3 separate regions of the Homo sapiens genome follow, and all the other regions are linked to region 1. The links come from fine-mapping of genetic effects on gene expression. A gene starts in region 1. Each other region holds a variant in brackets. All regions are shown on one strand. Distances are between the middles of the regions. Region 1 holds the start of MIB2 (MIB E3 ubiquitin protein ligase 2). Region 2 overlaps MMP23B (matrix metallopeptidase 23B). Region 3 has its middle 12 kb from the start of FNDC10.

Region 1 (10,320 bases):
CTCCACTTAGCCAGAGCAGGGCTCATCACAGGCAGCCGCAGAACCGACTGGAGGTCTTTGCTAGTAGGGGACACGCATCTGCCGACCCCCGAGATGGGCCCGGCAATGGAGATGAAGGACTTGGGACCGCAAAAAAGCCAATGCCATGAGCCCACACTGTGATCCTTCTGCAGCAGGGGGCGCCTTCTGTCTCTGCGCCCAGACTCTCAGCCACAGCCAGCTTAGCCCAGGCCAGCGGCCACACCTGCCCGACCCGCTGGCCATATGCCATTGGACCTTTCCAAAAAGACAGGGGCAGGGTGCCCCATGTGTGAGCCAATGTGTCCTGTGCTTTGGCAAATCTTGCCCTTGGGGGGATGGGCAGAGGGCAGAGATGTCGGGGAGGTCACCAGCAGGGCCTCTGGGAATCAAGACCAAGCCTTGGCGGCCCCCGCGTCACAGGGGCAGTGGGGTGGAGTGCCAAGGCCATCAGCCTGAGACAGGGTAGCCTGTGCCCCAGACTGGCACCTGTCTGCAGCATGCCCGGTATTTTTAGCACAGCCAGGCAGCTCTCCAGCCCTGGCCCACAAACCCCCACCCTCCCAGAGGCTGTCCCTCATGGAAGCCCACCTGAGTTGGGGCACAACTGGGCTGAACACAGGCAGGGCTTCCTCCCTGGCCTCACTTCTTGTGCCTGGAACCAGCCCCCCACTTGCTGAGGGCTGCCCCAACAAGGGGGACGAGCCTGGACAGGGGAGCTGGGTGCGCCCACCCACTCCCACCTCTCCCCGGGGGCTGGGATGTGAGCACACAGGGGCCTGTAGACCCGGCGCCTCCTCAAGGCCTCCCCTGCAGGGCCCCCACCCCAAGGGTCTGGGGTCTGTCCCACTTCCAAGGCAGTCCCTTCTGTCCAGCATGGCACTGCCCTGGAGTGGCCGCCTCATCTGAGCGGGGTCTCCAGCCATGCCTGCCCGCCTGCCAACCCTTCTGCGGTGCCAGTGTGCAGACAGACCACATGCGCGTGGATCCCAGGCTCAGGAGCTCAGTATCCTGGACCCTCTGGAGGGGCCAGCAGTTTTGGTTTTTTTGAGACGTAATCTCGCTCTGTCGCCCAGGCTGGAGCGCAGTGGCGCAATCTCAGCTCACTGCAAGCTCCGCCTCCCAAGTTCACGCCATTCTCCTACCTCAGCCTCCCGAGTAGCTGGGACTACAGGCGTCTGCCACCACACCTGGCTCATTTTTTCTATTTTTTAGTAGAGACGGGGGTTTCACCGTGTTAGCCAGGATGGTCTCGATCTCCTGACCTCGTGATCCGCCCGCCTCGGCCTCCCAAAGTGCTGGGATTCCAGGTGTGAGCCACTGTGCCCGGCCGCCAGCAGCTTTTGAGGCTCTGCCGCCTTTCTCCTCAGCTCCTTCCTGCAGCTGCCTGCCTGGCTTTCTCACCATTGCCCCAGGGCCAGCAGTCACCCAAGACCTGCCACTGGGCTCCTGGCACCCTGGCCCCAGGGCTCAGTACCTGCCTCCGAAGGCCTCTCTAGGGGGTGTTTGTGGTGGGGGCAGGAGGCAGTAATGAGACCCCCACAGGCAGGGAGGAGGGGCACCCCGCCAGGACCCAGCACTTGTATCCCTTGGTCTCTTCTCAAAGGGGACAGAGTGCACCTGCTTAGGGGCGGGAGGATCCAGCCCAGCATCGAGGGGCCTGCCCCATTCCCATTGTTCATGAGAGGTGGGGGCTGTGGGGTCGCACAAGCAGCCTGCCCATGTCAGAGGGAAGCTTGTGGACAAAAGGGCTCATCCCTTGGGCTTCCCTGACCATCCTGTCCTCCTGGGGCCATGGGACAGGTTCTGGGCTGGGTCTGGGTCAAGCTGACCCCGAGGGTACTGGCCACAGGACCCATCCCCTGGGCAGGCCTGGGAGCAGGTGATGTGGGGCTGGCGCTTGGCACACCCGCTGCAGACCTCAGGTGAGGACTTCCTGGAGGCAGGTGAGGAACACCAGATTAGGGGTAGGAGTGGGGTGGGCAGCCTGGAAATCAAGCCCTCTAGGACAGATGTTCCCCCAAGGGCCCCTCACTCCCTCTGCCTCCACCCTGGACCTGTCCAGCATCCATTCCTTCCTGGAGAGCAGGAGGCCTCTGGGTTGCCCCCTCCTATTTTTCTGTTCTACACCCACAAGGCTCCAGGTGCAGAGGAGGGGACCCGTGGGACCTGATCACCCTGATCACCTGCCCACAGCGGGTGAGCTCTGGGCCAGAGGCTGCTATGGGAAGTGCAGATGTCCAAGGCTAGCCCTGCCCTCACACCAACCTGGCCAAGGTTTCCCAGAAAGACAAACCAGAGACAGCCACAGCCACAGCCCAGCACTGGTGGAGGGGCTCCAGGGAGCAGACCAGCAGACCAGAGCTGTGGCCACGCAGCCCCTGGTGTACATCGTGGCGTACATGGCTGTGGCCACTCCTGCTCCTCCTCTTGGAAACATACAGCCCAGGCTTCCGCTTCAGGATGCTGCCCCACAATGGGTATCTTCATCTCAGTCAGAAATTTACTCAGAGAGTTACCAAATGTTTTTTCCTTTGCCAGAAATGCTAGACTTTGCCATCTACCCACAGTTCACAGGCTGTGCCCCTGGCTGGCATCTGAACCCCGCTGCAGGCAACTGCTCCCGATGTTTAAAATGATGGAGGCAGTCAGGGTGTGAAGACTCGGGCGACAGATCGACAGATGTGCTTTGGCAAATCGGAACTTACCTCAGAGCACACACCAGCCTCGAGGCAGCGTCCCAGGCATTTAATTGCTACTTCCTGGGTCACAGATTCGCTCGGCTACCAGGCTTTCCTGTTGGAAGCTAAAGCCACTGGAGACACAACACAGCAAACCAGACGGGCAGCCAGCAAGCCAGGCTGGAGAAAATGGTTTCTAAAGGCAGTGTCACACATTTAGCATTTACCGTCTTAACCACGCAAGCAGACACCGGGTCTGTTCTATTGCTGCTTAGTTTCTCTTTTTCACAAGAAACTGCAAGCTCTCAGAGGGCAGGAGGACTTCCGAACCATCAGTCAGGAGAGTGTAGGAGGAGAGAGTTCCCTTATTGCAAGTATTTTATCGGAGAAGCTTTAAAAGCCATAGAAACCAAATCCTATTTAGCGAGAAAGTTAGCAAATTGCCTTTATTCAGAAGAAGCAAGTTACATGGAACTGGACATGAGGCTGCCCTCCTCCTTGCACCTCCAGCTGTGCCTAATGACACCGAAATGCCGCTGTGTGTGGCACGCCACAGGCCATGGAGTAGCTCCAGCTAACGCAGATGGACATCCCAGGTGCCCCAGGGAGATCAGGCCCACGGAGTGGGATGAAGCCCTGAGGCGGGGAGGCCAGCATGGAGACACCTGCTGAGGGAAAGCCCACGAGCGCTGCGGCCACCTCCAATCCTGCCCATCTGGGTGGAGACCTACAGGCACCCTGCAGGCTGGGGTGTCATCCCACTCACCGCCCAGGGCTGCCCTCGGCCAGGAGAGCGCCACATTCAGACACTTGTTGCATGTGAGGCAACAGGCCAGGGTGGAACCGGACAAAGGGGGCCTCCCGGGAAGGGCCAGGCTTGCCGGCGCTCCTGCGCTGCGGCCGCTCTGCCCCAATCCTGCAGGTGCCTATCAGAGGCCTGTCTGGCACCTCTGCTTTCTTCCTCCATGGGTTCCGAACTCAGAGAGGAGACGCGGGATTACTCACCACTCCCCTCCACTCGCATGCATGCTCAGACACAAACACAGCCTCTCTGACGTGGCTTCCACGGAGCCCCAAAGTGGGAGAGCCAAGTGCAAACTATCAGGCCGCGGACGATCAAGAGCTCACCTGTCCGGCCGTCCAGTCGCCCGCCGGGCCGCCTTGAGGCTCCTGGGCTGCAGCCCTGATGCCTGGAAACTTTGGGACTGGCCTCTAGCCTCGCTGGGCTTCCAACCCTGTGGCCGAGGGGAGATGCCAAGATGCACAGTTAGCACCTCGACCCGCGGCTCGGTCGCCTGTCTGCCCCCGGGGCTGCCCGCCGGCTCCAGGTCCACTCGGGCCCACGGCCGCGACACTCAGGGCCGCCGCCTGCCCGGATGGGCTCCCTGGGGTCTGAGCGCGCAGGAGCCGCCAGCGCCGGGCCCGTAATTGCGTGCGCCCGGGGTCTGGCGGCCGCGGCTCGCAGACGTCAGGAGGCTCCGGGACGCGCACGGGCGCCGGCGCAGGGGAACGGGCGGGCCAGGGGCGGGCACGGCGGGCACCCCCACCCGGAGCGCGCCCCGCCCCCTGTCATTCGTGCCCGTGGCTCGCGGAGGCCGCCCGGCCCTGTCCGCTGCCAGACCTTGCCAGGGCCGCGCAGTACCTGCCGACCCCAACTTGCCCGGACGTTTCCGTCCCGCCCGCTCCGCTCGGGGGCGCGGGACCGCCGGCCAGTCCGTCTGTCGGTCTGTCCCGGCGTTCGAGGCCACCCACCGGCCCCGACTGCTCAGCGGCGGCCAGGCCAGGCCAGAGCGCCTGCCGCGCGCCGCAGCCCACCCGGCCCGGACGACGACCCCAGCGCCGACCCCAGCGCCGCTGGCCCCGGGCCGCGCGAGGCCTGCCGGGAGCTGGAGTCCCGCGCGGGTGGCCGGACCACAACTCCCAGGAGGCCCCGCGGCGGCGCTGCGCGCGCAGCCCCAGCCCATCCCGTGCGGACCCTACGCCGAGTCCAGCCCGGGGCTGCTGGGCCAGCGGGAGCGGGAACCGGACGGCGCTCGCGTTCTGCCAGAGCGGAGAACGACTCGGGGACGGTGCGGAGGACCAGGGGAGGAGATCCGCGCCCGCACGCACCATCAGCCGAGAGGACGGCCCGCATCGCGCCAGTGACCTAGGAGCGACTCGGGGACGGCTTCGGGCTCCCAGGCCCTCCTGGGCCACCGGGCACTGAGGAGAGCGGCGGCTGGAAACTGTGGGACCCGAAGGGCGGGAGCCCAGGGCCCGCCCCCGCCGGAGCGCCCCCGCCATGGCCACGCCCCCGCCACGGGGATGGGCAGGGCAAGCACCGGAAGTGCGTCACGCGGGAGCGTCTGCGTCGCCTACCCTGCGTGGCGCAGCTAGGTTCCGAGCGGCTTAGCCTCCGGGCGCCTGCGCAGTGGCGGTCCTAGAGACGCACTCGGTTGCCATAGAGACGGGGGCTTGGGAGCGACGTCGCGCTCGCTGGCACTGGCGGCACTTGCCGCGCCGCAGCCACCTCTTTCCGACTCCACCAGTGCGGGCCCTATCCGGGGTTTTGAGTCACGCAGACCTGGACACAGCGAGAAACGGCAGTCCGGGCCCGTCCTCCCGCCCCGGGTTCTGCACCCCAGAGTTGGACGCTTGCTTCTCGCTTTCTCCTGAGAGAAGTCTCCGCGTTTCTGAACAATGCACTGCTAGTTTCTCATTTCTTTCTTTCTTTCTTTTTTTTTTTTTGGAGACGGAGCCTCGCCCTGTCGCCCAGGCTGGAGTGCAATGGCGCGATCTCGGCTCATTGCAACCTCCGCCTCCAGGGCTTAAACTATTCTCTTGCTTCAGCCTCCCGAGCAGCTGGGACTACAGGCATGCGCTACCACGCACAGCTAATTTTTGCATTTTTAGTCAAGACGGGGTTTCACCATTTTGGCCAGGCTGATTTCGAACTCCTGACCTCGTGATCTGCCCTCCTAGGGCTCCCAACGTGCTGGGATTATAGGCGTGAGCCACCGCGCCCGGCCTCTCATTTCTTAATTGTAGACATTGCGTACTTCCGGAGAAGGTCCCTGAGAACCTGGCTGATCTTCCCCGCTGCACCCCTCACGTGGTCCTGTTAGCTCCCAAACTGTCAACCTGAAAGGAAACCCAGAGGCAGGCTCTCCAGGACAAGTGAGTTAATCTGGGAATCGCAGGGGGTTGCAGCCTAGGCTGTTCGTGCCATGACAGATCATAGGCCTATCTGAGAGGGCCGGGCGAAGGGGAAAATACAGATGAGCTCACAAAAGTTGTTTTGTAACAAAAACCACTGGCTGTGGGCGCTTGCTGCAGGAGTGGGCGTTAGCTTGTTGTTGGAGAGAGCCTTACCAGGCCGACGTCCTTGTGCAAGCTGCTTATCTAGAATACTGCAGTCCTGAGGAATTTCCCTGCAGTAAGTCCGGTTACAGGCAAACGTGCAGGACGTGCAGGAGCGTCTTGTGAGGAGGCCTGCTGCAGGTATTCCTGCATGAGAGCTCCCCCTTCGTGGCCTCCCGACTCCATTTGTTTAGGGATTGGTGGAAGTAGTTCCATTTTGGTACCTGCAACTTTCACAGCTGTCGTGATGAAATCAGGCTTAGCTCTTCATGATTGAGTACCTGCTGTTCACTGCTACAGTATAAAACCATGCCACAATTCCTGTACAATCTTTTTTTTTCTTTTGAGTTAATAATTACCTAATATTTTCACATATCTAGCTTTTTACTAACCCATGGCCAGCCTTTTTTTCAAGTACCCCAACGTTTTCGCCACATGCCTAACGATACCGTTTTCCAAAGGCTCAAACACATCCGTTGTGTCTAACTGATTCTCCTGTTCCGACCTAGACCGATCACTTCCTGACCCGGCTGCACAGCTCTTATCTCGAGCTTTTCTCTGCTCTCATCCTTGAGACTCACTTTGTCTGTCTCCTTTCTTGGATTCCCTGTGTAAACGAAAAATAAAATCCTAAGCTCTCTACCAACTGTTTTTTGTTTTGTTTTGTATTTGAGACAGGGTCTTGCTCTGTTGCCCAGGCTGGAGTGCAGTGGCACTATCTTGGTTGACTGCAGCCTCTGCTTCCTGGATTCAAGTGATCCTCCCACCTCAGCCTCCTGAGTAGCTAGGACCACAGACATGCACCACCATGCCGGTTATTTTTAAATTTTTAGTAGAGACAGGGTGTCACCATGTTGCCCAGGCTGGTCTCAAACTCCTGGGCTATGCTGTTTGCTCACCTCTGCCTTCTGAAGTGCTGGGATTGGCTGGGTGCGATGGCTTCACGCCTGTAATCCCAGCAGTTTGGGAGGCTGAGGAGGGCAGATCACTTGAGGTCAGGAGTTCATGACCAACCTGACCAACATGGTGAAGCCCTGTCTCTACTAAAAATACAAAAATACAAAAAAAAAAAATATTAGCCAGGCATGGTGGTGCACGCCTGTAGTCCCAGCTACTTGGGAGGCTGAGGCAGGAGAATTGCTTGAGCCCAGGAGGTGGAGGTTGCAGTGAGCTGAGATCGTGACACTGCACTCCAGCCTGGGGAACAGAGCAAGAATCCGTCTCAAAAAAAAAAAAAAAAAAAGCCAGACGCGGTGGCTCATGCCTGCAATCCCAGCACTTTGGGAGGCCAAGGCAGGCAGATCATGAGGTCATAAGATCGAGACCAGCCTGGCCAACATGGTGAAACCCCGTCTCTACTAAAAATACAAAAATTAGCTGGGTGTGGTGGTGGGCACCTGTAATCCCAGCTACTTGGGAGGCTGAGCCAGGAGAATGGCTTGAACCCAGGAATCGGAGGTTACAGTGAGCCAAGATCATGCCACCGTACGCCAGCCTGGTGACAGAGGAAGACTCTGTCTCAAAAAAAAAAAAAAAGAAAAAAAACCAGCCAGGCACAGTGGCTCACGCCTGTAATCCCAACACTTTGTGAGGCCAAGGTGGGAGGATCACCTGTGGCCAGGAGTTGGAGACCAGCCTTGCCAACATGGCAAAACCCCATCTCTACTAAAAATACAAAAATTAGCCGGGCTTGGTGGTGCTCGCCTGTAGTCCCAGCTACTTGGGAGGCTGAGGTGGGAGAATTGCTTGAACCCAGGAGGCAGAGGTTGCAGTGAGCCAAGATCTGGCCACTGCACTCCAGCCTGGGTGACAGAGTGAGACTCCGTCTCAAAAACAAAAAAAACAAAAAAAAAAAAAGAAAAGAAAAAGAAAAAACAAAAGTGCTGGGATGTGAGCCACCACACCCAGCCAGCCCTCCACCAACTGAACAGATTCCCTTTTGACCAAGGGGACCCCAGAGAAATTTTTAAAACTGAGTTTCCAGCCGGGTGGATCCGCCTATAACCTATAAGCCCCCACTTCAAGATATCCCACCTTTTTAGGCCAAACCAACGTATACCTTCTATGTATGTATTTATGTCTTTGCTTATAACTCCTGCCTTTCTAAAGTGTACAAAACCAAACTAAACCGACCACTTCAGAACCACTTACTGAAGGCTTCTCGGATGTGTGTTTTCCTGGGGCCCACAGTCATTCATATTGGCTCAAAGTAAACCTTTTGAAAGTATTTTGTGAAGCTGGACATGGTGGCTCATGCCTGTAATCCCAGCCCTCTGGGAGGCTGAGGTGATTGGACCACTTGAGCCCAGGATTTAGAGACCATCCTGGGCAACATGTTGAAATCCCATCTCTACAAAATATACAAAACTTAGCTGGGTGTGGTGGCACGTGCCTATGGTTCCAGCTACTCTGGGGGCTGCGGTGGGAGGATCGTTTGAGCCTGGGAAACGGAGGCTGCAGTGAGCTGAGATCGCACCACTGCACTCTAACCTGGGCAACAGAATGAAGCCCTCTTTAAAAAAAAGAAGAGCCCGGGCGTGGTGGCTCACGCCTGTAATCCCAGCAGTTTGGGAGGCCGAGGCGGGCGGATCAGGAGGTCAGGAGTTCGAGACCAGCCTGAGGAACGTGGTGAAACCCCGTCTCTTACTAAAAACACAAAAATTACCTGGGCGTGGTGGCACACGCCTATAATCCCAGCTACTCAGGAGGCTGAGGCAGGAGAATCACTTGAATCCGGGACGCAGAGGCTGCAGTGAGCCAAGATTGCGCTGTTGCACTCCAGTCTGGGCAGCGAGAGCAAAACTCTGTCTCCAAAAAAAAAAAAAAAAAAAAAGAAGGAGGAAAGAATGTCTTATTCAGAGTTTGGCTTTTCTGTTAACAGCTGTTTCCTGGAATCTGCGTCCTCCTCCTTCTGGCTTTACTCCTTTACTTTGCTGAAGTAAGACCCCTAGTAACTTCCTGGGGAGGGCCCATGTCTGGACAGTTGCTTATTCTACTGGAAGGTTCACCAGAGCCCCTGCTTTCTCTCTGTGTCCTGCCTGAGAAGCACAGAGCCTGGCCCACTGCATGCTTTCCCTGCAGTCTTGAAGCCCGGCCAGGACCTTGAGTATTCTCAGTTACTGATGAACTAGGTTGTTGTCTGAAACACTGAGAGATCAAACATGTTGCTAAATATGTGGAAACAAGAGTCACATTTCTTAAATCCTCCTGTAAAACTCTCCACTCTAGCCCCTGGGTGCAGGCATTCCTAGGTGGAACCTCTCCATCTCTTGCTGTCAGCCCGAGGATGTGCTGCCTCCCTCTGTACATAAATTCCCCGAACAAATGCTTTGGGCCGATCACCCTGGCGTTTAGTGCTTCTTTTCTTTGGGACCAACCAGCCCCACCTCAGGATGGTTTGAGGCAGTCCCTTGTTGGAACTTGCCTGCTGCCACTTTTGGGGTGATTCTAGCTGTGGGCTGGAGGGATGAAACAGCAGCGTCGGCAGGATTCCAAAGAAATGGGCCGAGGGAACCAGAAGCAATGGGGAGACCCCCGGATGGCCACAAGATCCCTGCAGCCTGCTTGCTTCACGCCATCTCCTTGTACAGCAGCCTTAGGATTAAAACTCTCTTTCTGCTGCAACCCGTGGTGTTGGCGCAGTGACATTCCATGCATCAGGAAATGGGCCCGCTATGGCCACAACAGCAGAGAGATGACTCTCCAAAGAGTTTCTCCAGGAATGACGGGGAATTGCAGTTTGGGATATGCGTGCTATGGCAGACCACAGGCACATCCAGAGAGGCTGGGACAGGGGAAGCTTCTAAAAAAACAGAAAGGAGAAGCCCACCTAAGCTGCTTTGAAGCAAAGAGCATAGGTGACGGGGACTTTGTGTTAGTCCATTCTCACGGTCTTACGAAGAACTGCCTGAGACTGGGTAATTTATAAAGGAAAGAGGTTTACCTGACCCACAGTTCCACGTGGCTCAAGAAACTTAACAATCACAGCAGAAGGGGAAGTAAACACATCCTTCACCTGGCTGCAGGAGAGAAACCTGCTGAGCAAAGGGGAAAAGCTCCTTATAAAACTACCAGATGTCCTGAGAACTCACTGTCACGAGAACAGCATGGGGGTAACTGGCCCCATGATTCAATTACCTCCCACCAGGTCCCTCCCACAACACGTGGGGATTGTGGGAAATGCAAGATGAGATTTGGATGGGGACACAGCCAAACTGTATCAGGCTTGTTGCAGGAGTTGGCATTCATCTGGAGGTGAAGACGGCCCTTGTCAGGCAAGCGT
Region 2 (8,549 bases), 22 kb before region 1:
GCTGGCGGGCGGGGGAGTTGAAACTCCCTTCTATCTAGGACTCTCTCGGGACACCTCCACATCGATTCTTTTTGTTTGTTTTTTTGAGATGGAATCTTGATCTGTTGCCCAGGCTGGAGTGCAGTGGCATGATCTCGGCTCACTGCAACCTCTGCCTCCCGGGTTCAAGTGATCCTCCCGCCTCAGCCTCCCAAGTAGCTGGGAGTACAGGTGTGCGCCAGCACGCCCGGATAATTTTTTTATTTTTAGTCGAGACGGGGTTTCACCACGTTGGCCAGGATGGTCTCGAACTCCTGACCTCAGGTGATCCACCCGCCTTGGCCTCCCAAAGCGCTGGGATTACAGGCGTGAGCCACCGCGCCCGGCCTGCATATCCATTCTTGGGAACACTTGTTGCTTAGCTGAAGCGGAGCCCGCATCCTGCCTGTGGCAGCACTCGCCCCGGTGCTGGTCTGAGCAGACGCCTCCTTTCTCTTGCAGAAGAAGTAAGTGAGGAAGAAATGAGTGAAGATGAAGAACGAGAAAATGAAAACCACCTCTTGGTTGGTAAGAACCTCCCTGGAGACAGAGCCCCCTCCTTGTCTGTCTCCGAGTGCAGCAGCCCTCTCCTAAGACAGCCGGTCCTGCGCAGCGTGGGGCACGCCAGGGTCTGGGAGGCCGCCTGATTCGTTGGCCGCTCCAGGCTGTGCCGGTGGGGCCCGCATTCCTCAGCGAGGCACAGTGCTGACCAAGGGCGTCCTGAGTGCCCAGCAGGGCCGAGGAGCTGGGAAGCCCAGGACCAGTTCCCCACAGGGGAGGCCCGTCAGATGGTGGCTCCGGGCCTGTCCCTGCAGAGCAGAGGCCTGGCCCAGCCTCCGACAGGCAGTGAGGTTATGTCCTCAGCCTGGTGGACGTGGATGTGGGCTTGTCCCCCACATGACACCCGACGCCTCCTCCCAGCTCAGCATCCGGGCTCTGTCTCAGCCGAGCCTGCCAGCACTCTTAGGCCTCGGTGCCCTGTGTCCAGGGGACGAGAGCCCAGCGCCAGCACCTCCCAGCGGGACACGGGGCAGCCCTGCCACGCGCTTGATGCCCCCGGGGCAGGAGGAGGTTCATGATCCTTGCTTACTCCTAGCTTCGTAATTAGGTTCAACTTTTCCAGTTCCAGAGTCACGGTTCGACCGAGATTCCGGGGAGAGTGAAGAAGCAGAGGAAGAAGTGGGTGAGGGAACGCCGCAGAGCAGCGCCCTGACAGAGGGCGACTATGTGCCCGACTCCCCTGCCCTGTCGCCCATCGAGCTCAAGCAGGAGCTGCCCAAGTACCTGCCGGCCCTGCAGGTCAGGCCCTCCCCTCGCCCCGGGCCACTGTCCGCATTGGCAGTCGGAGTTACCACAGGGGCTGAGCGAAGCCTGGCCCCCGTGTTGGCGTCTGTCGCCTCACAGGGCTGCTGGGCCCACTGGGGCAGTGACGGGCGGGCACAGCCACTGGCCCCTCATGCTTCTAGGTCCCGCCTCTTTCTCATGCTGGACGGAACTGGGTGGACAGGGAGCTGCCCGCAGGACTGCTCTGCGGCTTGAAAGGCAGCCTGGGCGTGCGGCCGCGCTGCTGTCACTGCTGCCCGAGTTGCGTCCTCCTCCGCACTGGAGAGCAGTGCCTTCCACTTGACCCCTGCGTGGGCGGGTTATGTAGGCACCAAGGCCTTGTTACCGGCATCTGTGCAGGGCTTGGATGGGGGAGCGGCTACGGGAGTCAGTGTAGATGTGTGACCAGAAGCCTTTTGCTTAGGCAGCTATCAATAAGGCAGGATATTGTTGGGAGCGATTTGGAAGGGACAAGCCTGAGAAGGTGCCAGTGGCCTCTGGGGCCTGGGAGACCGGCAGGGACTCGGCCCCCTCCTTGGTGCCTGTGGGCGGAGAGGTTCTCTCTGGCGCATGCAGCAGGCCTCTGTCGACTGCCCTATGCCTTGTGAGCGCCTCTGCCCCTTAGTGCTGCTGAGCGTAGGCGTCGGGCCACAGGCCACCCCGAGTACATGACATCCGGCCTGGGCACCGGCCCCAAGGTACACGGAGGGGTAGGTGCCCTGGCATGGGGCATCATGCTGCGCCTGGCAGGTAGGGCCCGTCCTCAGTGTCATCCTGGTACAAGCAGGGGACACATCCAGTTTGACAAAGAGACTCTTGGGATGGCTTTTTTTTTGGAGACTGGGTCTGTCTCTGTCACCCAGGCCGGAGTGGAGTGGCTTAATCATAGCTCACTGGAGCCTCCCCCTCCCAGGCTCAAACAATCCTCCCATTTCAGCCTCCTGAGTAGCTGGAACTACAGGCGCAAGCCACCATGCCTGGCTAATTTTTTTATTTTGTAGAAAGGAGTTTTGACCGGGCACAGTGGCTCACACCTGTAATCCCAGCACTTTTGGAGGCCGAGGCGGTGGGCGGATCAGAGGTCAGGAGTTCGAGACCAGCCTGGCCAATATGGTGAAATCCTGTCTCTACTAAAAATACAAAAATTAGCCTGGCGTGGTGGTGCGTACCTATACTCCCAGCTACTAGGGAGGCTGAGGCAGGAGAATCGCCTGAACCCAGGAGGTGGAGGTTGCAGTGAGCCGAGATCTCACCATTGCACTCCAGCCTGGGTGACAGAGCGAGACTCCGTCTCAAAAAAAAAAAAAAAAAAAAATAGAAAACAGAGTGTTGCTATGTTGGCCGGGCTGGTCTTGAACTCCTGGGCTCAAGCAGTCCTCCTGCCTTGCCCTCCCAAAGTGCTGGAATTACAGGCCTGAGCCCTTGCACCTGGCTGGGATGGCCTTTTGTTCACACTGGTTTTGTTTCATAATAAAGTGTCAGATGGTTTTGCAAGGAAAGAGACTTTGAAAGAACTGAGCTGCTCCCGGCTCCACCCCCGGCCCAGTCCCAAGGCTCTGCCCTGCACCTGCCCCGTGCCGGGTGTGCCGTGCCTGTGGACGCAGCCGCCCTCCCTCCAGCTGGCATGGCCACTGAGACCTCACACAGGCGCTTCCTTCCCAGGGCTGCCGGAGCGTCGAGGAGTTCCAGTGCCTGAACAGGATCGAGGAGGGCACCTATGGAGTGGTCTACAGAGCAAAAGACAAGAAAACAGGTGGGTGGGGTCCCCTCACCCCACAAAGGCAGGGGAAGTGGGGCAGGGGCTGGCTGCCCGAGAGCTGCGACTGCACCTGGGCCCGCCTCACCTGAGCAGCTACTGGAGGTTGGACCCCTCAGCACCTCTAGAAGCCAGAGGTCAGCCTGGCCCTGGGGCTTTGCCACTCCCTTGCAGTAGCAGGCGGCCTGCCCCACAGGGCCGAGGCCCAGCGCGTGGAGTGGTCTGTGCCGGGGCTGGTGTGCAGGTTTGCGTTCCCAGCGTCCCACCCAAGCAGGTGTGTGAGCCGGGAACTCTGTTGGGAGTCGGCCACTGGGATCCCAGGTGAGGCCGGCTCTGTTGGGGAAGTCGATGTGGAGTCGGCGTGGCCGCTGGGATCCCAGGTGGCTGTAGGTGGCTGTGAGTGTCTGTGGTGTGTTGAGTGGGAAGCCGTGGGTGTTGCCCAGACCTCAGCTGGGGCGTTCTCCTGGTGCCCACGTGCCCCCACCTAGAACGAGACCCCCCTCCGTGAAATGCTGGCGCTTTGGGCACTGCCTGCGGTCCTCACTGAACGAGTCCACTGTTGGTACCGTGACTTTGAGAATGCCTCTCAGTGCCGTCTGTATTTTCTTCACAGATGAAATTGTGGCTCTAAAGCGGCTGAAGATGGAGAAGGAGAAGGAGGGCTTCCCGATCACGTCGCTGAGGGAGATCAACACCATCCTCAAGGCCCAGCATCCCAACATCGTCACCGTTAGAGTGAGCATGGCCCCACCACGCCTGGCCCCGGGTGGAAGGCTTTTCTGACAGGGCCCCGTGCTGTCCTGGGGCCGGGTGCTTCCTACACTCTCCTGCACTTAGTGGAGCCCTTCACAGACCACACAGAAGCAAGCATTTGCCTCCCGGGTGGCACCGGAGGTCCTTACTGTCCCTCAGCAGCTGCACCCGGGTGCAGGGGTGGGTGGGGGCCTGGAGGTGCCCAGCACCCACAGAGCCGTGCCCTGCAGGAGATTGTGGTGGGCAGCAACATGGACAAGATCTACATCGTGATGAACTATGTGGAGCACGACCTCAAGAGCCTGATGGAGACCATGAAACAGCCCTTCCTGCCAGGTACAGCCGCGCCCCAGGGGCCTGTCTGCGTACAAGTGGGGGCAGGGTCCTGGTCACCCCCGCGGTGACAGTGCTGCAGGGAGGGCCAGCTGCATCCACAGGGAAAGCCCTGAGAAGCCTCTGTTGCTGCCGAGGCGAGTGGGCCACCCTGAGTGCCCTGGGCTGGGGGCAGCCAGGTCCACATGGGAGCTTCCCTCCCTCCCAGGGGAGGTGAAGACCCTGATGATCCAGCTGCTGCGTGGGGTGAAACACCTGCACGACAACTGGATCCTGCACCGTGACCTCAAGACGTCCAACCTGCTGCTGAGCCACGCCGGCATCCTCAAGGTGAGCCCCCCTCCGAGTGGCCCATCCCAGGGAGACCTGCCGGGGCCCACTCACAGCCGCCCATCTGTCGTTGCAGGTGGGTGACTTCGGGCTGGCGCGGGAGTACGGATCCCCTCTGAAGGCCTACACCCCGGTCGTGGTGACCCTGTGGTACCGCGCCCCAGAGCTGCTGCTTGGTGCCAAGGTGAGTCCTGGGCGTCTGAGTGCCTCCCCTGTCCCCCACGCAGCCTCCCACAGCTTCGCGGGCACTGGCCCTCCTGAACACCTCTCCTGACCTCTTAGGAATACTCCACGGCCGTGGACATGTGGTCAGTGGGTTGCATCTTCGGGGAGCTGCTGACTCAGAAGCCTCTGTTCCCCGGGAAGTCAGAAATCGATCAGATCAACAAGGTGTTCAAGGTGGGTCTGGCCCTGCTGCAGGTGCGCTGTGGGGTTGTGGAGGAGTTGCAGGAATGGGGCTGCGGGGCGCACAGGTGCTGGGTTGAGATGGGGACCAGGGCCACTGAGAGCCCTCCTGGTGGCTTGTCTTCTCTGACGGGACACAGGTGCCAACACTGTGGGCCACTTGGTGTGGCTGTTGAAGCACCTCTGTCTTTCAGGATCTGGGGACCCCTAGTGAGAAAATCTGGCCCGGCTACAGCGAGCTCCCAGCAGTCAAGAAGATGACCTTCAGCGAGCACCCCTACAACAACCTCCGCAAGCGCTTCGGGGCTCTGCTCTCAGACCAGGGCTTCGACCTCATGAACAAGTGAGCCCAGTGCAGCCGGGTGGCGGGAGGTCCCGAGCCATAGCGGTGACTTCC[C/A]AGTCCCAGGCCTACCTGCTGGCTCACCACGTTCCAGAACTGCTCTGGTGCCTGGCGTCCCATGCCCTGAGCCCCGTCCCAACACAGCCCATCTTTGGGGGACCCAGTGGAGCACACGAGCACCTCCTGGGCCTCTGGCCCTCTCCCCCCAGGTTCCTGACCTACTTCCCCGGGAGGAGGATCAGCGCTGAGGACGGCCTCAAGCATGAGTATTTCCGCGAGACCCCCCTCCCCATCGACCCCTCCATGTTCCCCACGTGGCCCGCCAAGAGCGAGCAGCAGCGTGTGAAGCGGGGCACCAGCCCGAGGCCCCCTGAGGGAGGCCTGGGCTACAGCCAGCTGGTGAGGGGCCTGGCGGGTGGGGCGTGCCCACAGGTGGGGCTGGCTTGGGCAGGGTTCTCACGGTAGCCGACTCGTCCCAGGGTGACGACGACCTGAAGGAGACGGGCTTCCACCTTACCACCACGAACCAGGGGGCCTCTGCCGCGGGCCCCGGCTTCAGCCTCAAGTTCTGAAGGTCAGAGTGGACCCCGTCATGGGGAGAACTCAGCCGGGACCACAGGCGTGGCTACTGCGGCTGGAGCTGCGATGAGACTCGGAACTCCTCGTCTTACTTTGTGCTCCATGTTTTGTTTTTGTATTTTGGTTTGTAAATTTGTAGAATTAAATCATTTTCCTTGTTGTGGAGGAAAGAGCTGTGTTTTCTCCGTGACTTGCCCAGGGCGGAGAGGGTGGACATCTTCGGGTGCCCACGTGGGGCAGCACAAACCTCCACACACCCTCTCCCACTCTCGACACGCACGGGGCTGGCTGGGCCGTGATTTGGAAAGGAACTGGTGGGAGCCGGGTGGATTGTTTAATCTTCGGAGCTGGAGACCTGTTTCTGTGTTGGGATGAGCGATGCCCTCTTGCCCCAACCCACTCGTCCAGACCAGCCCTGTCCACACAGGCCCCCGGCCCCCAACCCCCAGCCCCAGCTGTGCCAGCAGACTCGACAGGTTTTTATACAAGGTTGTTGAGTTTTAAAATGTATTAAAATATTCTTCGAGGAAAGCTCCCCGTGTCGTCCTTTGAGTGACCCGGGACCATGTGTGGGAGGGGAGTCGCAGACCACCGGGCTCTAGGGGAAGAGGGTGGGGTGGGCGGCTGTGGCCTCTGACCCCATGTGGGCCAGTGTCTTCCCCAGGCAGGAGGGGAGCTCCTACCTCCTGGGGGGCCTCCACTCTGGCAAGGTGGTCCCCCACCCTGTGCCAGTCCTCCCAGCCCCCACCCACATCTCCTTGCAGAAGATCCTGGAGGCCCATCCCAGCCACATCTTTCAGGAAGCCCCCTTTGCCTCCCTCCCCCAGCTCTGAGCAAGTCCTAGACAGAACCCAGGCTTCTGGGGCTACCCCAGGTGCTGCTCCACGTGCTGCCCCTGTCACTGGGGCCTCCGCTTATCCCACTTTCCCAGGGGCCACCTTAGCAAAGCCCGTCCCGTCCTGTGCTGTACCTGTTGTCCGCTGTGCGGGGAAGCAGGGGTGCCCAGCCCCGAGGACGCCCAGCTCTCGGTGGACCAGGGGCTGGGGTGTCCACCTGCCCAGACTGGCTGCCCGCTGCCCTCCCAAGAATGAGCGAGGAGCCATCAGAGAGAAAGTGCTTTATCAGCCGGGCTCAGCCCCGCACACGGACTCGCCAGGAGTAGGTGGTCAGCACGCGCTGCTGGCGGCGCACCACGCAGGTGTAGGTGCCCTCATTGACGGCGTTGGCGATGATGCTCAGGTGCGCCTCGCCCAGGGCCAGGTAGCCGGGGTAGGAGAACTCCAGGGGCTCCTGGTCCTTGTACCAGCTGCAGGGGGGCGGGGCGTCTCCTGCAGGCACAGCCCCCCCCCCGGCTGCCTGCCCCGCACCCCTGCCCCAAGGCCGCCCGCGGGCTGCCCACCCCGAGGACCGCCCGGGGCGCTCACTCACTACACTTTCCCTTTCTTGTGGAGGATCTTCTGGCCGCAGCGGAAGGTCACGTTCCTGCCCTCGGGCACCAGCCTGGTTTTGGTCCTGGGGGGCGGTGGGGTGGTGGCCACCGTGGGGAAGGGGAATTCTGCTCCGGGTGGGGGAAAGAGCCCCGTCAGTGCCCCCTCAGCCCCGACCATGGCCAAGGCCCAGCTCCCACGCAGCCCTGTCCCGGCCCCGTGGGCATCACCGTAGCAGAAGTCGCAGCTGCTGGGGCAGAGCCTCTTCATGAGCCGCCGGCGAGCGTCGCAGAAGCCCCTCCGCGCCCAGGACGCGCACACGAACAGCCTGTCGAGGCATCCTATCGGGAGCGTGGGGAGCACGGCCTGGCTCAGGACCGCCCGGTCCCCGCCCTCCCGCCCGACAAAGGGACTCACCGTAGAGCCGGTGCAGCCCCCACAGCTCGTCCTGGGACAACGCCTTCCAGCCGCGCAGCGTGGCGTTCAGGTGCATGAGCGCCCGGCCGTGTTGTGAGTGCATCAGGCCCAGCGCGTGGCCGATCTCGTGGGCCGCCACGTGCACCAGGTCCGTGAGCCACACGCCTGCGGGCCCCGGGGGTCAGCGCCTGGGAGCCCCGGGCCCAGCCCCGCCGCCCGTGGGCCAGCTCCCCGAGGCCCGGTGTATCTGCTGGAGCGCAGCCGCGGAGCCGCCCTCGGCCGCAGCCACGGAAAGATAAGAATGTTCTGGGCCCAGGCGGTGAGCTCGGCCCCCAGGAATGCAGCTCCAGCTCCCGCTCCAGAGGCGCAGGGGGATGGGAAAGGGAGTTCAGGGCTGCCGGGATGGGGGCTCCCACGGGCTCCCCTCCTTGCCTGCTAGACTCCAGTGGCAGCCACCACCCCGGAAGGTCCCTCCTGCCGTCTGCCCCAAAGCCCGACCGCGGCAGCCCACTGTGCTGCAGAGGAGAGGCCTCCAGGAGGCCAGCCTGGACGGTCACCTTTCTTCCAGCTGTAGCGCGTGGGGCCCAGGACCCAGTACTCGCTGTCGTCGAAGTGGATGCCGCCGTGCGGGGGGAAGAAGGCGTGGGCCAGCTCCCCCGTGGGGCCGTCGAAGCAGTGGTGCAGCGCGGAGACCAGGCAGTCCGTGTGGTTGATCGGGTAGAAGCCTGGGGGGAGCACGGGGCTGAGAGGCCGGGCGCGCAGGGCCGGGCCGGGGCGGGGGCGGGCGCCCACCTATCCGGAGGTCGCTGGGCTGCTCGGGGGCCACCTCGCGGAAGCTGAAGGGGGACACGTCGCTCCACATGCGGAA
Region 3 (10,320 bases), 27 kb after region 1:
GCAACTTCTGCCTCCCAGGTTCAAGGGATTCTTCTGTCTCAGCCTCCCGAGTAGCTGGGATTACAGGCACACGACACCACACTCGGCTAATTTTTTGTACTTTTAGTAGAGACGGGGTTTCGCCATTTTAGCCAGGATGGTCTCTATCTCCTGACCTCGTGATCCGCCCCCCTCGGCCTCCCAAAGTGCTGGGATTACAGGCGTGAGCCACTGCGCCTGGCCTTGTTTCTTTTCTTGTTTTTTTTTTTTTTTTTTTATTTAGATGGAGTCTGGCTCTGTCACCAGGCTGGAGTTCAGTGGCGCCATCTCGGCTCACTGCAAGCTCCGCCTCTCGGGTTCAAGTGATTCCCCTGCCTCAGCCTCCCGAGTAGCTGGGACTACAGGCCTGCGCCACCACGCCTGGCTAATTTTTTGTATTTTAGTAGAAATGGGGTTTCACCATGTTGGCCCAGCTAGTCTTGAACTCCTGACCTCAGGTGATCCGCCCGCCTCGGCCTCCTAAAGTGCTGGGATTACAGGTGTGAGCCACCACATTCGGCCTGTTTGTTTCATTTTCGTGTATTTATTTATTTATTTATTTATTTTGGGACAGAGTATCACTCTGTCACCCAGGCTGGAGTGCAATGGCGTGATCTTGGCTCACTGCAACCTTCACCTTCTGGGTTCATGTGATTCTCCTGCCTCAGCCTCCCGAGTAGCTAGGATTACAGGCATGCACCACCACAGCTGGCTAATTTTTGTATTTTTAGTAGAGACGGGGTTTCACCATGTTGGCCAGGCTGGTCTCCAACTCCTGACTTCAGGTGATCCACCCGCCTAGGCCTCCCAAAGTGTTGGGATTACAGGCGTGAGCCGCCGCGCCCGGCCAGCTTCTCTTGGTGATCCTTGGGTTGTAGACGCATCAGCCCAGTCTCTGCCTCCGTCCTCACAGGGTGATCTGTCTGCCTGTCTCCACCGTCACTGTGTCCAGATCTCTCTCCTTTCTTTTATAAAGATACCTGTAATATTGGGAAAAACGAAGTGCTGTTTTCCTCTTCTCTCACTCAACAGTCCACACTTCTGTGTCCCAGGAGTGTGGGGTTTCCCACACCAAGGAGTTCTGGTTTTTTTTTGAGACGGAGTCTCGCTCTGTCGCCCAGGCTGGAGGGCAGTGGCGCGATCTCTGCTCACTGCAAGCTCCGCCTCCTGGGTTCACGCCATTCTCCTGCCTCAGCCTCCTAAGTAGCTGGGACTACAGGCACCTGCCACCCGGCTAATCCAAGGATTTCAGGAGCTGTGTGTCATGAAACGGAGGAAGAGCAATGCATGTTTCCCTGTGGCACAGCACCATTGACAGCAGGAGGGCCTGCACTAACTTGACATGACCTCATTTCATTTGATTACGCCTACAAAGATCCCTATTTCCAAATAAGGTCACATTCGTAGTTAATGGGCTTCATCATATCCTGTGGAGGACACAGTAGCTACGAGTCACTGTGGACACTGTGTCTTGGGACAGCGACAACTGTTTGGGCCAGTAGCATGGGGGTAAAAGAATTTACCATCGGCCGGGCGCGGTGGCTCACGCCTGTGATCCCAGCACTTCGGGAGACCAAGGCGGGCGGATCACCTGAGGTCAGGAGTTGGAGACCAGCCTGGCCAACATGGTGAAACCCCGTCTCTACTAAAAATACAAAAATTAGCTGGGCGTGGTGGTGTGCGCCTGTAGTCCCAGCTACTCTGGAGGCTGAGGCAAGAGAATCACTTGAACCCGGGAGGCAGAGGTTGCAGTGAGCCGAGATCGCGCCATTGCACTCCAGCCTGGGTGACCAAGTGAGACTCTGTCTCAAAAAAAAAAAAATTTACCAAGACAGTTGTAGGTAGAGAAAGGCACATATGTTAGTGAAAGTAGGAAAACATGTTGCAAGGAGGCAACGGGCAGCCAGCAAGAGAGGCCAACTGCATGGAGACAAAGACTTGCTGGACGTTTTGTAGGGTGGCTCCTGGGTTGATGGCCAACGCCAAGGCAGCGGGGAGCTTCACCTGCGTTCTCCTGTCAGCCAGGGTGTTTGGTAATTTGAGGCGTTTGATGGTGAGCAGGAAGATTGTGAGTTACGTGCATTACTTGTTCAGGAGGGCCATACAGAAAGGCAGACCTACAGCCCATCTCCTTTCTGTCTTTGCTTTCCCCTGCTCCCTCCAGCCCGACTCCTTTCCCCTAATTAGGGCCCCCCACACGGGACACTTTAATTGCAGCTACTGTGACTGAGGACCTCCATTTTATATTTTAGTTAAACTTTTTTTTTTTTTGAGATGGAGTCTCGCTCTGTCGCCCAGGCTGGAGTGCAGTGGTGCGATCTCTGCTCACTGCAAGCTCCGCCTCGCAGGTTCTCGCCATTCTCCTGCCTCGACCTCCCAAGTAGCTGGGACTACAGGTGCCCACCACCACGCCCGGCTAATTTTTGTATTTTTAGTAGAGACGGGGTTTGACCATGTTAGCCAGGATGGTCTCCATCTCCTGACCTCGTGATCCGCCCGCCTGGGCCTCCCAAAGTGCTGGGATTACAGGCATGAGCCACCGTGCCTGGCCGTTAAACTTAAGTTTAAACAAATAACCTCTTATGTTCGGTGCACACTTTGTCAGACGGCACAGTTCTCAAAACTCTTTTTTTTTTTGAGATGGAGTCTCTCTCTATCACCCAGGCTGTAGTGCAGTGTCGCGATCTCCGCTCACTGCAACCTCCGCCTCCCAGGTTCAAGCGATTCTCCTGCCTCAGTCTCCCGAGTAGCTGGGATTACAGGCAGCCACCACCACGCCCAGCTAATTTTGGTATTTTTAGTAGAGACACGGTTTCACCATGTTGACCAGGCTGGTCTCGAACTCCTGACCTCAGGTGATTCACCCGCCTTGACCTCCCAAAGTGCTGGGATGACAGGCATCAGCCACCACGCCCGGCCTACGTTTCTTATTTCTAATGTAGGTGGTGCGGGTCCTTTAGACTCTGTGCTCCGCACGTGAAATACTCAGGTACACGTAGGGCAGGAGTGGGCGATGCCCTCATTTATCGCCTAGATGGCCACGCGCCCCACAAAGCCCGGCCTCCTCCTTTAGGCATCAACTCTCCCCCGATCCCTGTCACCCAAGGAAGCCCCAGGCATCCTTAAAGATTTCCAACACCTGGTTCTCAGCCTTTTTCTCTAAAATACCACAAAAGCAATGGTAGACGACTTCAGCACCCGTGAAACGGTCCCCAGCGCCCTGGTGTCTGAGTTTCTTGACCTCTTTCTGAGAAGGAGCCTGTTTTCCACCAGGGTCCATGGTCCTTCCCGTCCTAGCTTTATTAAAAGCCACCTCCTGTAATCCCAGCACTTTGGGAGGCTGAGGCAGGCGGATCATGAGGTCAGGAGATCAAGCCCATGCTGGCTAACACGGTGAAACCCCGTCTCCACTAAAAATACAAAACGTTAGCCGGATGTGGTGTCGCGCCCCTGTGGTCCCAGCTACTCGGGAGGCTGAGGCAGGAGAATGGGGTGAACCTGGGAGGGGGAGCTTGCAGTGAGCCGAGATCGCGCCACTGCACTCCAGCCTGGACGACAGAGCGAGACTCTGTCTCGAAAAAAAAAAAAAGAGGTCACCTCCACATCCTCGGTTTTCCACCCCACCACCACTTAGCTCTAGGAATAATTCTCTTTTTTTTTTTTTTTAACAGAGTCTCTCCATCCTGGCTAACATGGTAAAACCCCGTCTCTACTAAAAATGCAAAAAAAAATTAGCCTGGCGCGGTGGCGGGCGCCTGTAGTCCCAGCTACTCGGGAGGCTGAGGCAGGAGAATAGTGTGAACCTGGGAGGCGGAGCTTGCAGTGAGCCCAGATCGCACCACTGCACTCCAGCCTGGGCAACAAAGCGAGACTCCGTCTAAAAATAAATAAATAAATAAATAAATAAATAAATAAATAAATAAAAACAGTCTCGCTCTGTCACTCAAGCTGGAGTGCAGTGGTGTGATCTTGGCTCACTGCAACCTCCAGCTCCCGGGTTCACGCCATTCTCCTGTCTCAGTCTCCCAAGTAGCTGGGATTACAGGCGTCTACCACACCCAGCTAATTTTGTATTTTTAGTAGAGACGGGGTTTCTCCGTGTTGGTCAGGCTGGTCTTGAACTCCTGACTGGTGATCCACCCGCCTCTGCCTCCTAAAGTGCTGGGATTACAGACGTGAGCCACGGCGCCCTGCCTGCTCCAGGGATAATTCTTGCCTTCCACTGGGATCCCCAGCTCGGTGCACAGAGTGCTTTTTCGCGGCTGCCATCCTTCATGCCTTCATTTCTCAGCTCACCTAGTTCTGATTCAGAGTCAAAGTAGAGTCTCTGGGGTTGAAAAACGGGGGAAGGGAAGGGAAGAAGGGAAGCGAAGCAAAACGGGAGGCCACCGTGACACACAGAGCTAAGGAAGGCCATGAAAGGGGGTCTCAGGCCTGCATGCCTCAAAACTATCACAAAGGATTCCAAAAACCGCATACTTGCACAAAGTCCACTGTAACCTTGCACACACACAGAAATACTTCTGTGAGGACATCCGCCCAGGACTGCCTGTCCACCCTCAGATGGTTGTCATCCTTGTTATTGATCTTTGTAGCCAAGGATAATTCTTTCTTTTTTTTTTTCTTTTTTTTTGAGACAGAGTCTCGCTCTGTTGCCCAGGCTGGAGTGCAGTGGCGCGATCTGGGCTCACTGCAAGCTCTGCCTCCTGGGTTCACACCATTCTCCTGCCTCAGCCTCCCGAGTAGCTGGGACTACAGGCGCCTGCCACCGCGCCAGGCTAATTTTTTTTTTGCATTTTTAGTAGAGACGGGGTTTCACCATGTTAGCCAGGATGGAGAGACTCTGTTAAAAAAAAAAAAAAAAGGAATTATTCCTGGAGCTAAGTGGTGGTGGGGTGGAAAACCGAGGATGTGGAGGTGGCCTCTTTTTTTTTTTTTTTTTTGAGACGGAGTCTCGCTCCGTCGCCCAGGCTGGAGTGCAGTGGCGCAATCTCGGCTCACTGCAACCTCCACCTCCCGGGTTCACGCCATTCTCCTGCCTCAGCCTCCGGAGTCGCTGGGACTACAGGCCCCCGCCACCACACCCAGCTAATTTTTTGTATTTTTAGTAGAGACGGGTTTCACCGTGTTAGCTGGGATGGTCTTGATCTCCTGACCTCGTGATCCGCCCGCCTCGGCCTCCCAAAGTGCAGCCAAGGATAATTATTTCAAAACAATGAAGTCATCCTTCTCATCTTTCCTTTAAAAACCTTTGTCTTTGGCTGGGCGCGGTGGCCCACGCCTGTAATCCCAGCACGTAGGGAGGCCAAGGTGGGCAGGATCACAAGGTCAGGAGTTCAAGAACAGCCTGACCAATATGGTGAAACCCCGTCTCTACTAAAAAATACAAAAATTAGGCCTGGTGCAGTGGCTCACGCCTGTAATCCCAGCACTTTGGGAGGCCGAGGCGGGCGGATCACGAGGTCAGGAGACTGAGACCATCCTGGCTAACACAGTGTAACCCCATCTTTACCAAAAATACAAAAAATTAGCCGGGCGTGGTGGCGGGCGCCTGTAGTCCCAGCTACTCGGGAGGCTGAGGCAGGAGAATGGCGTGAACCCGGGAGGCGGAGCTTGCAGTGAGCCGAGATCACACCACTGC[A/T]CTCCAGCCTGGGCGACGGAGCGAGACTCCGTCTCAAAAAAAAAAATCCCAAAATTAGATGGGCGTGGTGGCCGGTGCCTGTAGTCGCAGCTACTCAGGAGGCTGAGGCAGGAGAATCGCTTGAACCAAGAAGGGGCAGTTGCAGTGAGCAAGCTTGCGCAACTGCACTCCAGCCTGGTGACAGAGCTGTGAGACTTCAACTCAAAAAAAAAAAAAAAAAACCAGCAGGGCGTAGTGGCCCACGCCTGTAATCCCAACACTTTGGATGGCAGAGACGGGCGGATTGCCTGAGCTCCAGAGTTCGAGACCAGCCTGGGCAACACGGTGAAACGCTGTATTTACTAAAATACAAAAAATTAGCCGGGTGTGGTGGCAGGCTCCTGTAATCCCAGCTACTCGGGAGGCTGAGGCAGAATTGTTTGAACCCGGGAGACGGAGGTTGCAGTGAGCCGAGATCGCACCACTGCACTCCAGCCTGAGCGACAAAACGAGCCTTCGTCTCAAAAAAACAAAACAAAACAAACAAAAAAACCAAAAAAAACCTTTGTCTTCTTCTACCTCCCTGAATATGCACATACTTTACTGTGGCACACGCGTTCCCATTGCAATCCTATTCCTGAATAAATATTTTACTTTTTTACTTTTGGTGGAGAAGAGTTTATTTAAGGCCGGGCGTGGTGGCTCACGCCTGTAATCCCAGCACTTTGGGAGGCTGAGGCGGGCGGATCACGAGGTCAGGAAATCGAGACCATCCTGGCTAACACGGTGAAACCCCGTCTCTACTAAAAATACAAAAAATTAGCCGGGCGCGGTGGCAGGCGCCTGTAGTCCCAGGTCCCAGCTACTTGGAAGGTTGAGGCAGGAGAATGGCATGAACCCGGGAGGCGGAGCTTGCAGTGAGCCAAGATCGCGCCACTGCACTCCAGCCTGGGTGACAGAGTGAGACCTCGTCCCAAAAAAGAAAAAGAAGAGTTTATTTAATGTGAGAACAGCATCCTCCCGGTGAGTGTTGAGCTCTTGGCAGACAGGAGGCTGGAGAGGGCGGCTCCTCTCCACAGGAAGTCGTTTGGATGTCTCCGCAGGTCTCAGGCTCTCCACAGACAGGGTAGAGGTAGCTCCTCTCTGCTGACAGGTTGTCTGGGCAGCTCTCAGCGGAGGACAGAGGAGAAGGTACTCCTCTCTGCAGCTGGTCATCCTGGTCGCCTCCCTGCCCTCTTCCTCTTCTGGCTGTCCTCTTCGAATAAATATCATTTTCTGCTAGAGAACCCCTCTCTGTTATTTAGTTTGACATAAATGATGCTCTGAAACAGGACCTGAAGGAAGGTCACTTTAAGAAGGAACTGGCGGTTCTTGGAGCCAGTGCCCCATGCTCGCCGAGCCCTATGGGCTCTCTGCTTCCGTGGTTCGCATGCTCTGCCTTGGAGAATCTTCTGTGGCTGTGCTTCCCTCTTTTTAAAATTGCATTTTATTATTATTATTATTATTATTATTATTTAAGACATGGTCTCTCTGTGTTGCCCAGGCTGGAGTGGAGTGGCACAGTGTTGGCTCACTGAAGCCTCAACATCCCAGGCTCAAGCGATTCTCCCACCTCAGCCTCCTCAGTAGCTGGGACCACAGGCTGGTTCTACTATGTCCAGATAATTTTTGTTTGCTTGTTTGTTTTTAAAAAAAGAGTCTTGGCTGGGCGCGGTATCTCACACCTGTAATGCCAGCACTTTGGGAGGCCGAGGCAGGTGGATCACGAGGTCAGAAGTTCGAGACCATCCTGGCTAACACGGTGAAACCCTGTCTCTACTAAAAATACAAAAAATTAGCCGGGCGTGGTGGCGGGTGCCTGTAGTCCCAGCTATTTGGGAGGCTGAGGCAGGAGAATGGCGTGAACCTGGGAGGCAGAGCTTGCAGTGAGCTGAGATTGCGCCATTGCACTCCAGCCTGGGCGACACAGCGAGACTCCATCTCAAAAAAAAAATTAGCCAGGCGTGGTGGCGGGCACTTGTAGTCCCAGCTACTTGGGAGGCTGAGGCAGAAGAATGGCATGAACCCGGGAGGTGAAGCTTGCAGTGAGCCGAGATTGCACCACTGCACTCCAGCCTGGGCAATAGAGCAAGACTCCGTCTCAAAACAAACAAACAAACAAATAAACAAACAAAAAAAGTTAGCTGGACATGGTGGCATGCACCTGTAATCCCAGCTAGTCTAGAGGCTGAGGCAGGAGAATCGCTTGAACTCACAAGGCAGAGGTTGCAGTGAGCCAAGATTGCACCGCTGCACTCCAGCCTGGACTGCAGAGTGAGATTCTGTTTCAAAAGAAAACAAAACAACAACGAAAGTTACTGGGTCTGTCGCCACCATCTGAAACAGTGGTCCATGTGCTTGACAATTCCTGATAGGATCTATGGAAGCTTCTTTGCTCTTCAGAAAATAAGAAGAAATGAAATGGGATTCTCAAACATTAAGTCACAGCAGATTTTTTGGTTCTCCAGCAGGCTATATTATGGCCCAACTTGGGCAAACTGTACTTATTTATCTTTCTTTTTAATTTTTCTCAGCTTCTGTTCTGCTCTAACTCAGGCACATTTTAAAACTGATGGGTGGCCAGGCACGGTGGCTCACGCCTGTAATCCCAACACTTTGGGAGGCTAAAGTGGGAGGATCACGAGGTCAGGAGTTCGAGACCAGCCTGGCCAACATGGTGAAACCCCGTCTCTACTAAAAATACAAAAAATTAGCCAGGCGTGGTGGCACACGCCTGTAATTGCAACTACTCAGGAGGCTGAGGCAAGAAAATTGCTTGAACCCGGGACGCAGAGGTTGCACTGAGCCAAGATCATGCCACTGCACTCCAGCCTGGTCGACACAGCAAGGCGCTGTCTCAAAAACAAAAACAAAAACAAAAAAACCCCAAAACTGGCCGGGCACGGTGGCTCACGCCTGTAATCCTGGCACTTTGGGAGGCTGAGGTGGGTGGATCACAAGGTCAGGAGACTGAGACCATCCTGGCTAATCGGTGAAATCCCGTCTCTACTAAAAATACAAAAAATTAGCCGGGTGTGGTGGTGGGTGCCTGTAGTCCCAGTTACTCGGGAGGCTGAGGCAGGAGAATGGTGTGAACCTGGGAGATGGAGCTTGCAGTAAGCTGAGATTGCGCCACTGCACTCCAGCCTGGGCCACAGCGAGACTCCGTCTCAAAAAAAAAAAAAAAAAATTAATTGGCGGGCGCGGTGGCTCACGCCTGTAATCCCAGCACTTTGGGAGGCCGAGGCGGGCGGATCATCTGAGGTCTGGAGTCTGAGACCAGCCTGACCAACATGGAGAAACCCCATCTCTACTAAAAATACAAAATTAATGGCGCATGCCTGTAATCCCAGCTACTCGGGAGGCTGAAGCAGAAGAATTGCTTGAACCCGGGAGACAGAGGTTGTGGTGAGCTGAGATCATGCCATTGCACTCCAGCCTGGGCAACAAGAGCAAAACTCCATCTCAAAAAAAAAAAAAAAATTTTTATGCTTTGGGGCAGTGGCAGTGGTAACGGGGCTGTGTGCAGGAGGAGCATCGATCGGGCAGGGTGGATGTGGGCTGGGGCAGCCCCGGGTCCCAGGCCCTGCAACGGTGTGCAGGGCGGGAGTGCCCAGTCGGGCTGCATTCCCAGGTGCACGGCGTGCCACTGAGCTGCTCACGTAGCTGCCACCATCTGTGCTGGGCCCAGCCGAGACGCAGAACCTCGTGGACATGACCTAGGAAGACCCAGACAGTGTGCCCCACGGATGTCCTGGATCAAAGGGACCCAGGTTGGTGATTACTTCTACTCCTTTGGCGGCTGTTATTGGCACGCAGCCTACCGGTAGCTGCAGCAAGGGCCATCCTGGACAAGCTTGTGCAGTCCACCCTCTCGGACCTCAGGGTGTACCTGGGGGCATCCACGCCAGACTTGTAGGAGCAGTCCCCATGGCACCGACTGACACTTCTAAGAGCCCAGAAGATACATCTGGCCCCCGTAGGCTGGGCTGGCAGAAGGGATAGCTGAGATGCGTTCTCTTTGCACTTGGTGGGGAGGGTCTGACTCGAGACACTTCCCCAACAGTAGGGAATAAAATTGTCATGGTTGAATAGACCGATTGTGGATTGTGTTCCATCTACTGAGACTGGCACACTGCCTCCTGAAATGAAAGTGGATCTCATCACCAGAGGAGAAATGAGGAACTGCGTATCAGCTAGCCTTCACTGTGTAACAGACCATCCCAAAATTTGGCAGCAAAAACAGGTCACGTATTTGTCCACAATTCTGTGGGTTGGCAATCTGCACTGGGCTCACCTGCGGACCCTCATGGAGCTGTGGTCATTTGTCACATCCGCTACACCTGGATGGTCTAGGACAGCCTGACTCACTTGTCTGGCAGGTGACAGGTTGTTGGTTGGGGTGGCCTGTCTAGCAGGCTGCTTCAGCCTTAGGGCTCCAGGAGAGTGAGAGTAGAAGCTGCAAGATTTCTTGGGTTCTGGGCCTGGAACTGGGGCTGGGACAACGTCAGTTCTACTAAGTTCTTTTGATCAGAGCAAATCACAAGGCTTTGCCCGGATTCAAGGGATGAGAAAGAGACCGTATGTCTTGATGAGAGGAACCACAAAGAATGTGTGGCCATTTTTCACCTAATGCAAATAAC

What was found.
Region 2: its variant is fine-mapped to the expression of MIB2 in whole blood (INTERVAL, PIP above 0.99).
Region 3: its variant is fine-mapped to the expression of MIB2 in whole blood (TOPMed, PIP above 0.99).

The regions. Positions count from the first base shown.
Region 1 is chr1:1,610,122-1,620,441 of GRCh38, reverse strand. It overlaps MIB2 (MIB E3 ubiquitin protein ligase 2), which reads right to left and starts at 4,942. Exons shown (of 20, transcript NM_001170687.4): 1 at 4,809-4,942; 2 at 3,828-3,934. RefSeq lists silencers at 4,008-4,097, 4,128-5,177 and an enhancer at 5,278-5,447.
Region 2 is chr1:1,633,045-1,641,593 of GRCh38, reverse strand. MMP23B (matrix metallopeptidase 23B) reads right to left here. Exons shown (of 8, transcript NM_006983.2): 3 at 8,474-8,549; 4 at 8,239-8,406; 5 at 7,682-7,846; 6 at 7,495-7,605; 7 at 7,266-7,392; 8 at 6,940-7,143. The coding sequence ends at 6,969. CDK11B (cyclin dependent kinase 11B) reads left to right here. Exons shown (of 20, transcript NM_033486.3): 10 at 481-546; 11 at 1,142-1,317; 12 at 3,004-3,094; 13 at 3,711-3,832; 14 at 4,081-4,186; 15 at 4,392-4,513; 16 at 4,590-4,697; 17 at 4,796-4,912; 18 at 5,113-5,261; 19 at 5,468-5,657; 20 at 5,738-6,369. The coding sequence ends at 5,830. Among named protein-coding and RNA genes, the nearest start is that of MMP23B, 5.1 kb to the right of the region's middle. RefSeq lists an enhancer at 7,903-8,549. The variant C/A (reference allele first, on the strand shown) is at 5,316.
Region 3 is chr1:1,582,783-1,593,102 of GRCh38, reverse strand. No RefSeq gene overlaps it. Among named protein-coding and RNA genes, the nearest start is that of FNDC10, 12 kb to the left of the region's middle. The variant A/T (reference allele first, on the strand shown) is at 5,660.